Homo sapiens: one gene and its partner. The protein of the gene in region 1 purifies or fractionates together with the protein of each later gene. This does not show direct contact. Each region holds a gene or a part of one and is shown on either strand. Other genes may lie near its edges.

What was found. Proteins that work in one complex are often made in the same cells at the same time.
Region 2: the proteins of MTMR1 (region 1) and EAPP purify together in Homo sapiens (affinity purification with mass spectrometry, with the first as the bait; one large-scale study listed by BioGRID). This does not show direct contact.

What each region holds. Positions count from the first base shown.
Region 1 is NC_000023.11:150,724,396-150,727,895, reverse strand, and holds part of MTMR1 (phosphatidylinositol-3-phosphate phosphatase MTMR1), read right to left. Parts: intron 682-3,500; coding exon 587-681; intron 213-586; coding exon 105-212; intron 1-104. UniProt on the Homo sapiens protein: Lipid phosphatase that specifically dephosphorylates the D-3 position of phosphatidylinositol 3-phosphate, generating phosphatidylinositol. Could also dephosphorylate phosphatidylinositol 3,5-bisphosphate to produce phosphatidylinositol 5-phosphate.
Region 2 is NC_000014.9:34,526,202-34,529,701, forward strand, and holds part of EAPP (E2F-associated phosphoprotein), read right to left. Parts: intron 3,275-3,500; coding exon 3,157-3,274; intron 1-3,156. UniProt on the Homo sapiens protein: May play an important role in the fine-tuning of both major E2F1 activities, the regulation of the cell-cycle and the induction of apoptosis. Promotes S-phase entry, and inhibits p14(ARP) expression.

The sequences.
Region 1 (3,500 bases):
CAGTACAAATTATTCTACTGTCCAAAGACCATGAAGAGACTGAGGGAGAAAAAGTTCAGAGCTGATTGCCCTCTTTTAGTTTTCACTTGGCGTTTCTATTATACCTTGCACACTATCTCTATACCACAGGAATTGTCTCCATGGCTCTGTGCTCCAATCTTCTCCACTCTGCTGATCACTCCAAGGGGAACATCAAGGATAAAATGCGGGTCCTAGGTTCAAAAATTAAGATCAATGCCTATTAGTGTCAGTCAACAGTTTTCATATTTTAAGTCTTTGCTGGGTTACAAAACATGTTTGTTTACTTCGCATTTCCTCTTTGTCCCAGCTAAATTGAAGTCTGATTGACAGCATTCCTTGTGAAATATATATTGAGACAACAATGGAATTTCCCCTCCAGGTTTAAGCGGTACTTTAACAGCCTTTGTTTTCAAGATACAAACATCTGTTTGCAAATGTGTGCATCTCAAAATCCAACCTGTGGTTATCTCAGGGTAATGGGATTTCAGGGGACTTTTTACTTTCTTCTTTTAGTGTTCTTTTAAAAGTGTTTCTTTTAAAATAAAACACACTTTAAAAAACTCACCCTCTCGACATTTTTGAAGTACAGCTTAAAGTCCGTCACTGTCAGGGTTCCACTCACTGCTCCCATAAATGGGCAGATATACATGACATCTTTCACTGAAAGAAAAAGGCCAAAGTAGCAACTACTGCCATAGACTTGTGCTTCCATAAAACTTAACACGAGTTTTCCAAATATATATTTGTGATTCCAGTTTTCCAGGAATTTTGTATTTTATAGGATTATATCAATTATGACTTTCAATATAGAGAGATGCATAGTCTTCTAATAAATTTCAATTTTTTAAAACAAAATTCTGATTTGCTACTTAATGAGGTTTTAAGTAAAGGGCCTCATAAGAAGTTATATTCTGTCATTTTTCCTAGGTAGTTAACATTTTCCCTGGGTGATAAATTAATCATATTCAAAACATTAATTAAACTCTGAAAACCCTGGGCTACTGTTTCATGAATTACTGCTACTTAAAACTAATGAAAACTAAAGATTGTCTCCTAATGCATCTCCAAAGGAAACTCTTTTTACAGAAGACAAAACCTAGAACCACATCAATGAAATGGAAAAAGACTTATTTCAAATTCCTTATCCCCTTATCAGTTTTAATTTTTTGTCAATATCTATTAAGTGCGTGACATATTTAATTCCCATTAGTGTTAAGAAGCTCACTTCTATCACAAAGATACCACATCTTCATGTTTTCCCAAAGTGCCATTCCACTGGAATGACAAGAATATACATAGCTATATATGAGTCCAAGTGAGACAACAAAAGGCATTAACGTCATTGAACCAAATTCTCAGAATACTTCCATTGAACTTTTCTATACTCCTTATGTACTGAGAGCCTTCTATTGCTGGGATTCTGGGTATAATTGGAAGAAGTTCCTGTCCATGAGCAGCCCATGACCTGTGAGAGATACCACACAGAAAAATCGCCATTATACTAGAGCAGAGGTCCCCAACCTTTTCGGCACCAGGGACTGGTTTCATGGAAGACAACTGTTCCATGGACCAGGGCAGAGGTAGGGGGATGGTTTCAGGATGAAACTGTTTCACCTCAGATTATCAGGCATTAGACCCTCATAAGGAACATACAACCTAGATTCCTCACATGCGCAATTCACAACAGGGTTCACGCTCCTGTGAGAATCTAATGCCACCGCTGATCCGACAGGAGACGGAGCTCAGGCGATAATGCTCACTAGCCCGCTGCTCACCTCCTGCTGTGCAGCCCCGTTCCTAACAGGCCATGGACCAGTGCTGATCCACGGCCCATGGGTTGGGGATCCCTGCACTAGAGGTTGACAAAAGCTAAAATAACAATGTGGACACAAAGTATTACAATGGAAGTTCAGAAAAGGATCAACTTAACTCAATAGGAAAGTGGGTAGGGGGAGTAAGAGAAGGAAGGGAGGAAGGGCACAGTGATAAGTTGTTAGAGGTTAGTATGCCTGGATCAATGGGTGCAGTGAGGACAGTCGAATATGAGGCCAGAGAAGTTGGCAGGGAGTGGATTGGCAAGTGCTTCTGTAGGAGACTAAGGCATTATTATCATTATCCTTAAAAGATAACTGTTTAAACAAAAACAAAAACAATATATTGTGGGGTTTATAACATATGTAAAAGTAAAATGGATGACAACAACAGCATAAAGGGTAGGAGGGGACAAATGGGAGTATACTACTATAAGGTTCTTATCCTGTACATGAAGCAGCATACAATCATTTGAAGGTAGACATAAAGATGTAAAATAACTAGTTACATAACAAAACAAACAATTATAGCTAATATGCAATCACAGGACATAAAATAGAATTCTAAAAAGTAAAAACCCCATAGTCTCGACCCAAAAGCTCCTTCAGCTGATAAACAACTTTGATAAAGTTTCAGGATACAAAATCAGCATACAAAAATCACTAGCATTCCTATACACTAACAACAGCCAGGCCAACAGCCAAATCAGGAATGCAATCCCATTCACAATAGCCACAAAAAGAATAAAATACCTAGGAATATGGCTACCCAGGGAGGTGAAAGATCTGTACAATGAGAATTACAAAATACTGCTCGAAGAAATTAGAGATGACATAAACAAATGGAAACACATTCCATGCTCATGGATAGGAACAATCAATATCGTGAAAATGGCCATACTGCCCAAAGCAATTTATAGATTCAATGCCATTCCTATCAAACTACCAATGACATTCCCAGAACTAGAAAAAAACTATTTAAAAATTCATATGGAACCAAAAAGAATAGCCAAGGCAATCCTAAGCAAAAAGAACAAAGCTGGAGGCATCATGTTACCAGACTTCAAACTATACTACAGGCCCACAGTAACCAAAACAGCATGGTACTGGTACAAAAACAGACACACATAGACAAGTGGAACAGAATAGAGCGCCCAGAAATAAGGGTGCACACCTACAACCCTCTGATCTTCAACAAAAGCAAGCAATAGGGAAAGAATTCCTTATTCAACAAATGGTGCTGGGATAATTAGCTAGCTATATGCAGATGACTGAAACTGGATCCCTTCCTTACACCATATACAAAAATCAATTCAAGATGGATTAGAGACCTAAATGTATAACCCAAATCTGTAAAAACCCTGGAAGACAACCTAGGCAGTACCATTCTGGACATAGGAACTGGCAAAGATTTCATGATAAAGATGCCAAAAGCAATCACAATAAAAGCAAAAGTTGACAAATGGAATCTAATGAAACTAAAGAGCTTCCGCACAGCAAAAGAAACTATCAACAAAGTAAACAGCCTACAGAATGGGAGAAAATATTTGCAAACTATGCATCTGACAAAGGTCTAATATCCAGCATCTATAAGGAATTTAACAAATTTACAAGAAAAAACACAAACAACCCCATTAAAAAGTGGGCAAAGGACAAGAATAGATACTT
Region 2 (3,500 bases), on another chromosome or scaffold:
GGGTGGATCACAAGGTCAGGAGTTCAAGACCAGCCTGGCTAACATGGTGAAACCCCGTCTCTACTAAAAATACAAAAATTAGCTAGGCATGGTGGCGGGTACCTATAATCTCAGCTACTTGGGAGGCTGAGGCAGAGAACTGCTTGAACCCAGGAGGTGGAGGTCACAGTGAGCCGAAATTGCGATACTGCACTCCAGCCTGGGCAACAGAGCGAGACTCTGTCCCAAAAAAACAAAAACAAAAACAAGCATAGAGCCAGGCTGGAATTACACCTGTAATCCCAGGCCAAGGTGGGCAGATCACTTGAGCCTAGGAGTTTGAGACCAGCCTGGGCAACATGGTGAAACCCTGTCTCTATAAGAAAATAAAAAAAAAAATGAAAATAAAAATAAACAAGCATAAACCGGGCATGGTGGCTCACACCTTTAATCCCAGCACTTAAGGAGGCCAAGGTAGGAGGGGATTGCTTGAGCCCAGGAGTTTAAGATCAGCCTGGGCAACATAGCAAGACCTTGTGTCTATTAAAAATTAAATTAGAAACAAAAAAAACAAGCATGGACTCAGGAGGCTGAGGCAGGGGGATCATTTGAGCCCAGGAGTTCAGGGCTACATTGAGGTATGATAGCATCAGTGCACTACAGTCTGGGCAACACAGCAAGACCCTGTCTTTAAATTAAAAAAAAAATGACCGGGTGCGGTGGCTCATGCCTGTAACCCCAACACTTTGGGAGGCCGAGGCAGGTGGATCATCTGAGGTCAGGAGTTCGAGACCAGCCTGACCAACATGGAGAAACCCCATCTCTACTAAAAATACAAAATTAGCCAGGTGCAGTGGCACATGCCTGTAATCCCAGCTACTCAGGAGGCTGAGACAGAAGAATCGCTTGAACCTGGGAGGAGGAGGTTGCGGTGAGCCAAGATCACATTTGCACTCCAGCCTGGGCAACAAGAGCAAAACTCCGTCTCAAAAAAAAAAAAAAAAAAATGGCCTGGCACAATGGCTCACACCTGTAATGCCAGCACAGGAGGTGAAGACAGGAGGATCACCTGGGGCCAGGAGTTCAAGATCACCTTGGGCAACACAGCTAGACCTCTCTATTAAAAAAATTTTTTTAATTAGCCAGGTGGTGTGTGCCTATAGTCCCAGCTACTCAGAAGGCTGAGGTGGGAGGAGTGCTTGAACCCGGGAGGCGGTGTGTGCCTACAGTCACAGCTACTCAGGAAGCTGAACCAGGAGGAGTGCTTGAGCCCAGAAGTTTGAGGATACTGTGAGCTATAACTGCACCACTGCACTCCAGCCCAGGCATCTCTTAAAAAAAGGTGGGGGCAGAGGGTGTGGAAACAACACAAACATCCATCCCTCAGTGGATGAAAGGATAAACAAATTGTGGTATACACATACAATGGGATACTATTCAGTCATAAAAAGTAGAGAAGTACTGACATGTGCTAAAATGTAGATGAACTTCAAAAGCACTATGCCCAGTGAAAGAAGCCAGATATAAAAGGTCACATACTGTATAATATCCCATTCATAAGAAATATCTAAAATAAGCAAATCCACAGAGACAGTGCACAGATCAGTGGCTGCCAAGGGGCTGAGGGGAAGGGTAGGGAAACTACCTAACAGTACAGCGTTTCCTTTTGGGATGATGAAAATGGTTGAAACTACATAAAAGTGGTGGCTGTGCAACATTGTGAATGGTATTAAATGCCACTAAATTGTTCACTTTTAAAGTGGGTACTTTTGTTATGTGAATTTTATCTCAAAAAAAATTTTTAACTGCTCCTTGCAGAGCAGGGCTACTCCATAAGCAGTGTACCTAGAGTAGCCTCATCTCAATTTTTTTTTTTTTTTTGAGACAGTCTCATTCAGTCGACCAGGCTGGAGTACAGTGGTACAATATCAGCTCACTGCAACCTCCACCTCCTGGGATCAAGCGATTCTTGTGCCTCCAGAGTAGCTGTGATTACAGGCACACACCACCATGCCAAGGTAATTTTTGTATTTTTAGTAGAGATGGGGTTTCGCCATGTTGGCCAGGCTGGTCTTGAACTCCTGACTTCAAGTGATCCGCCCGCCTTGGCCTCCCAAAGTGCTGGGATTACAGGTGTGAGCCATCATGCCCAGCCTCATCTCAATTTTTAAAAATCAAATTTGTAAGTAGTTAAAAAGAACAATTTGCTAAATCCACTCTTCATCCACAAAACCCTTTTTTTTTTTTTTTTTTTTTTTTGAGATAGGGTCTCATTCTGTCGTCCAGGCTGGAGTGGAGTGGCGTGATCTCAGCTCACTGCAACCTCCACCTCCCAGGTTTGGGCAATTCTCCCGCCTCAGCCTCCTGAGTAGCTGGAATTACAGGTGTGCGCCACTATGGCCCCACTAATTTTTGTATTAGTAGAGACAGAGTTTCACTATGTTCGCCAGGCTGGTCTCAAACTCCCGACCTCAGGTGATCCACCTGCCTCGGCCTCCCAAAGTTGCTGGGATTACAGGTATAAGCCACCACCCTGGCCCATCCACATAAACTCTTAATCTCAAAGTAATTTAAAACAGCATCTGAAAAAAAAAGTCAGTTTTTCTTGAGGGAGAGATTGACTAACGCAGCCTAAATTCAACAAGTTTAAAAAAAAACAAAAAAACAATTGTCGGGCTGGATGCAGTGGCTCAAGCCTGTAATCCCAGCACTTTGGGAGGCCGAGACAGGTGAATCACGAGGTCAGGGGTTCGAGACCAGCCTGGCCAACATGGTGAAACCCGGTCTCTACTAAAAATACAAAAAATTAGCTGTGTGTGGTGGCAGGCGCCTGTAATCCCAACTACTCGGGAAGCTGAGGCAGGAGAATCTCTTGAACGCAGGAGGCGGAGGTTGCAGTGAGCCAAGATCGCGCCACTGCACTCCAGCCCAGGCGACAGTGCAAGACTCTGTCTCAAAAATAATAATAAAAATTTAAAAAATTTTAAAAAAAAGTCTCACTAAAATTTGCTGGTTATTTTCAAAATAAACTACTGAGCAGTTTTTTCCTCTAACTTTTTTGTTTGTGTGTGTGTGTTTGTGTAAACATATACACATATATTCAAAATGTGAATGTAGTAAAAATCATCTTTCAATCTTTTTTTCTAAAGATTCTAAATATTAACTTTAAGTTCTTACCCCCTTCTCTGTGCATCAACCCAGGCCTGATCTCTGTTATCTTTTTCAGGATCATACAGTAATTCGTCATTTGTTGGAATCTTGTGTTGTTTCTTCTTTTTTTTCTTGGTCACCTGTACTAATTTTGAAAATATTAGGATATGGCTAAGAATCATGTGTCAAGTTCACACTTCTTTAAATGAAGAGTCTCATTTCCCAAGCTACACATTTATTTATATTTTCCCTAAAAAGTTAAAAAAGGGACGGGCGCAGTGGCTCACACCTGTAATCCTAGCACTTTGGGAGGCCAAGGTGGGTGGATCACCTGACGTCAGGAGATCGAGACCAGCCTGGACAACATGGCG